Regions from separate parts of the Homo sapiens genome. Here region 2 is linked to region 1. The links come from fine-mapping of genetic effects on gene expression. Tissue or cell type: whole blood. Region 1 holds a variant in brackets; the other region holds the start of a gene. All regions are shown on one strand. Distances are between the middles of the regions.

The links. PIP is the estimated chance that this variant, and not a neighbour inherited with it, causes the effect.
Region 2: IPP starts here. The variant in region 1 is fine-mapped to the expression of IPP in whole blood (INTERVAL, PIP 0.98).

The regions. Positions count from the first base shown.
Region 1 is chr1:45,628,892-45,631,647 of GRCh38, forward strand. It overlaps GPBP1L1 (GC-rich promoter binding protein 1 like 1), which reads right to left. Exons shown (of 13, transcript NM_021639.5): 11 at 1,591-1,715; 12 at 685-787. Among named protein-coding and RNA genes, the nearest start is that of CCDC17, 6.2 kb to the left of the region's middle. The variant G/A (reference allele first, on the strand shown) is at 1,413.
Region 2 is chr1:45,749,528-45,752,283 of GRCh38, forward strand. It overlaps IPP (intracisternal A particle-promoted polypeptide), which reads right to left and starts at 1,126. Exons shown (of 9, transcript NM_005897.3): 1 at 1,070-1,126. LOC105378693 (a long non-coding RNA gene) reads left to right here and starts at 1,422. Exons shown (of 3, transcript XR_947290.2): 1 at 1,422-1,721. RefSeq lists a silencer at 967-1,236.

The DNA of each region.
Region 1 (2,756 bases):
GACCTCGTCATCTGCCTGCCTCGGCCTCCCAAAGTGTTGGGATTACAGGCGTGAGCCACTGTGCCCAGCCATAAGTCCTTATTTCTAACAGAGTTCTAAGTGGCAAGGTCTCACATCAGCTTGTGCCATGCCCCTTTTAAGGACTTGGCCAATTGTGCTGTAAATACAGGCCACCAGAAGTTCAAGGATTTTTATAGAAACCCCATTTGTCTTGTTCACCCTAAGATCTAGCAGTGTTTTATTCAGAGAAAGAATCCAAGCAACTGCTGGATAAACTGACACAAGCTATTTAGCTTCTTAGCTCTGGCCAGAGGACCAGGAAACTACAGTGCAGATCAGGAAGCAGAGGAAGGTGAACCTGCTTCCTTAAAGACCAAGAGCTCAGACCATAGCTCTGGAACACAGCCTTGTGGTTCTGATAAGGAGTTAGAGCTGTTAGGATGAAAGAGCATACTATTTTTTGGAATCTGCTAATCACTGACACTTGGTTTTTGTATATAACACTGGGGATCCTTATTTCCCAGGCAGATTTAGGGGCCCCACTACATTTCTACTAAGGTAATCCCCCCCCCCCCCACCCGATCTTTCTCTCACATTAAACTTGCTCCCTCAGGGCAAGAACTGTCTTGACTCCTTATTCTCCTGGTTACTAACTGGTCTCTAGGAAGAAGGTTTACAACATACCTGCTCTGTCTTCATGTGGAACTCTTTGAGCTCATCCTCTGTGAGGGGAAGGCAATTCTCATCATTTTCAGGATATTCCTGCCAACCCATAGCTTTCAATAACCTGGTGGACGCAGAAGGACAGGTAAAGAGAATACAACATCACTAAGCCTAAGTGAACAGCCCACCACTTTTCACAGAAAAGTTTTCTGCCCAGGGGCAATGGATGTTAAAGAAGGAATTTTGTTTTCCTCCCTGTGGGACAAGCTTTAATTGTGGCTACCTGGGTGCTGTAAATAAATGGAGGCTCTTCACAGTTGAGAGAGGAAGAGCTAAAGAAGAGACAGTAGAAGCAAAACCAAGACAGTGTAAGGAAGAAAGAGAGCACTTGCAGTCTGGCTTTTTTTTTTTTTTGGGATGGAGTCTCACTCTGTCACCCAGGCTGAAGTGCAGTGGTACAATCTCAGCTCACTGCAACCTCCGCCTCCCGGGTTCAAGCCATTCTCCCGTCCCAGCCTCCCTAGTAGCTGGAATTACAGGCGCACACTACCATGCCCAGCTACTTTTTGTATTTTTGGTAGAGACAGGGTTTCGCCATGTTGGCCAAGCTGGTCTCAAACTCTTGACCTTGACTGATCCACCCACCTCAGCCTCCCAAAGTGCTGGGATTACAGGCATGAGCCACTGCGCCCGGCCTGAAGTTAAAAGTATTAAAGTATTGGAGAGTAGATTGTGGAAAAGATGGCTGA[G/A]TTTGAGAGAGAATGCTTGATGAGCAACAGGCCAACCTGGGGCATACACAGAGAACAAGTTATGACTGGGCCACTTCTCTCTGCATGTGGGACCTATCTATCTGAGATATCTTCTCCAGTATGTTCAAGGTCCTTAAAGGTCAGACACTGCATGCCCTGTGATGTCCTCCTCACTTACCTGTGCTCTGCTTCTAGAGAGTGTGAGAGAACCTCCCCTTCTTCCACTACAGGGAGGGCAAGACCATTTTGATGACAGCCTTCCTCCCCATTTTCCTTTGGTTCAGGTGTGCTGTTGTCCTCCAACTGCAATAAGGAAAAGGAAGGACACAGTTGGTTTAAGGTTCCTTTGTAGTAATATAAGCAACCTATGAAATCAAGGACTCACGACCCAGGAAGTGTTTTCCAAAAGACAGCCTCAGCCCACAGATTTTTTTCCCCATTTACAAATGAGGACCTGCTGCATCAACAAAACTGATTCTAAAGTTTTAATGAAAAGGCAAAAGATCCAGAACAGCCAACACAATACTGAAGAATAAAACCAGAGTACTGATATTACCTGACATCAAGACTTACCACAAAAGCTGGAGTAATTAAAACAGTATGGTAACAGTGCTCATAAGAGGTGTGGGGGGAAAAAGTGTGGTACTGGCAGAAGATGACACAAATAGTCCAATGGGACAGAACAGAGAGCCCACAAATAGACAACTGATCTTTGACAAAGGAAATACAATGGAGAAAAGATAGTCTTTTCAACAAATGGTGAGGGAACAATTGGACAGCCACACTAAAAAAAAAAAAATCAATCTAAACAAAGACCTTACAGCCGTCACAAAAATAAAGTCAAAATGGGTCACAGACCTAAATGTAAAACACAAAACTATAAAACTCCTATAAGGATAACATAAAAGAAAACTTAGATTACCTTGGGTATGACATTTATTTATTTATTTATTTGTTTATTTACTTACTTATTTTTGGAGATCAAGTCTCACTCTGTTGCTCAGGCTGGAGTGCAGTGGCGCGATCTCGGCTCACTGCAACCCCCGCCTCCCATGTTCAAGTGATTCTCATGCCTCAGCCTCCCATGTAGCTGTGACTATGGGTGCATGCTACCATGCCCGGCTAATTTTTCTGTTTTTAGTAGGAACGGGGTTTCGCCAGGTTGGCCAGGCTGGTCTCAAACTCCTGACCTCAGGTGATCCGCCCACCTCAGCCAACCAAAGTGTTGGGATTATAGGTTTGAGCCACCGTGACTGGCCTACAATTAATTAGGCTGGATTTCATTAAAATAAAAAAAATTTCTGCTTTGCAAAACACTCTGTCAAGAGAATTAAAAGACAGTGT
Region 2 (2,756 bases), 120 kb after region 1:
TTTTTTTTTTTGAGACGGAGTCTCGCTCTGTCGCCCAGGCTGGAGTGCAGTGGCACGATCTCGGCTCACTGCAAGCTCCGCCTCCCGGGTTCACGCCATTCTCCTGCCTCAGCCTCCCGAGCAGCTGGGACTACAGGCGCCCGCCACCACGCCCGGCTAATTTTTTGCATTTTTAGTAGAGACGGGGTTTCACCGTGTTAGCCAGGATGGTCTCGATCTCCTGACCTCGTGATCCGCCCGCCTCGGCCTCCCAAAGTGCTGGGATTACAGGCGTGAGCCACCGCGCCCGGCCAGGGAGGATCGCTTGAGTCCTAGAGTTCAAGACCAGCCTGGGCAATACAGCGAGCCCCCCGCCGCAAAAAAAATTGTTTTAACATTAGCTGGCTGTGATGGGGCAAGCCTGTACTTCCGGCTACTTGGGAGGCTGAGGTGAGAGGATCGCTAGAGCCTGAGAAGTCGAGGCTGCAGTGAGTTGTGATCGCACCACTGCATTCCAGCCTAGGAGAAGGGGCGAGACTGTCTCAAAAAAAAAAGCAGATTATTAGGAAACGGTAGAAATGCCCAGAGGAACTAAAGCGGACCTATGTTTGCTGGCTTTGAATTCACTGCTGGGAACATGTGGAAACTGCTTCAGCAAAGGGGTGTCAGAAAGAATCCCCGGAACAAGTGTCAAAACACCCGTGGTTCTTTGTGCTTGAGTTGGGGGCCCGGCCTAGAGAGCTAGCCCTAAACTGCTGCTACACTAAAAGCTAATAATCGTTCCTGCGCTACCTAAAGGTCAGGGAAGGGATCTCAGACAAACGAGGCGACAACAGAGGGACTGGGGACACAGCCTCAGGATTCCCCAGTTGGGGCGGGGGAGGCAGGAGCGGTCCGGACGAGAAGGTCTGGGGAGGGCGACACTTAGACTGTCGGAGGAAGGCCTGCGGCGGCAGAAGGAAAGACAAGGAAATACACAGTTCTAGAGGCTTCTCTCACTCCAGTCCTCAGGGGTCCGGAAAGCCGGAGGGAGTAGAAGAGGAAGTTCCCAACCCCGTCACAGACGCGCCCGAACGCAGGCCCTCCTTACCCGCCGCTTCCCCTTCCCTCCGGCGCCCGCTCAGGCCCTGCGCGCGCAGTCGCGACCAGCCCCGGCCGGAGAGGGCGGGGGAAACCTGGCGGGGGTGACGAGGCGGGAGTGACTGGGCCGTACAGTTCCCCGAGAACTGGAGGCGAAGCCGGGCGGTGGGAAGGGACTTCGGACGCTTCGCGGGCCCTGGGTTTTCACTGCGCGTGCGCGAGGTTCTTCCGCTCGCGGGAGACTGGGCCGCTGGCGCCTCTCAGTGCCCACTGATGGGGCCCAGGGCTTGGGCTTGCTTCCCCAAGGATCAACAGCTTAGCTGCAAGCCTCTGCTTCTGCCTGCTGGGGCCGGCTGGCTCGCCCTTTCCATTCCGCTTGCACTCTGATTCTTGTGGTGTCCCAAGAAGGCCGCGGATCTCAGTTAAGCAGAGACGAGCCGAACACCTGGCACGGTCCTTCTCTACTGTTCTCTCGAATCGTTTTCTGAGTGCATGACTGAGCCTGGCACTGAAGGGATACTTATTTTGGGGAAGGAAGAACTCAAAAGTCCAGTTTTTTTCACTGTTGACCCTCATGTGTCACATTAGTGGCTTTCAAACTGTTTTGATCCCAGCCTACGGTGAACAAAAATATTTTACATCAAACTCAATACCACATACTTGTGAGTATATATATAGAAGTATATATCTAACATAAAATCTCATTTCTTTATTTTTATTTTTATTTTTTATTTTTTGAGACGGAATTTCGCTCTTGTTGCCCAGGCTAGAATGAATGCAATGGCCGGATCTCGGCTCACCGCAACCTCCGCCTCCTGGGTTCAAGCGATTCTCCTGCCTCAGCCTCTCAAGTAGCTGGGATTGCAGGCATGCGCCACCATGCCCGGCTAATTTTGTATTTTTAGTACAGACTGAGTTTCTCCATGTTGGTCAGGCTGGTCTCAAACTCCCCACCTCAGGTGATCCGCCCGACTCGGCCTCCCAAAGTGTATTTCTTTCTCTTTTTATGAGACAGGGCCTGGCTTTGTCGCCCAGGCTGGAGTGCAGTGGTGCCATCTCGGCTCACTGCAGCCTCGACTTCCTGGGCTCTGGTAGTCCTCCCACCTCAGCCTCCTGAGTAGCTGGGACTACAGGCCTGTGCCACCACCGCCAGGCTAATTTTTTGTATTTTTAGTAGAGACAAGATTTCGCCATGTTGACCAGGCTGGTCTCCAACTCCTGGGCTCGAGTGATCCGCCCGCCTCGGCCTCCCAAAGTGCTGGGAGGTGTGAGCCACTGTGCCTGGCCTGAAACAAAATCTTCACAAAACTATGTTTACACTTACGACCCGCAGTGCACTAAATTTTTATTTCTTCTTTTCTACTTCATTACCAAAAACTGCTAACAGGGACCTATTGTCAGCAAACATTGTCAAAGACTTGGAAATGAGGAAAAGAGAATTCTGTGTGCCCTTTCAGTGTAAGGCTGGACGGATTTGCATCCATAGGGAGCTCTGACTTTCTATTGACTAAAGTATTTCACCAGAAAACTGGTAGTACTTAAAATAATTCTTGCCCGTCTGTAGAAAAGATACACCAAAACATTGTTTTATTGACCTGTAGCATATTAAGCCATTTTTACCCTTCTCAGCAAATTCATTTAAACATTCCTGATTCTTAGCAAATTCATGCTACATTCCTAAATATCTTACTGGCTCC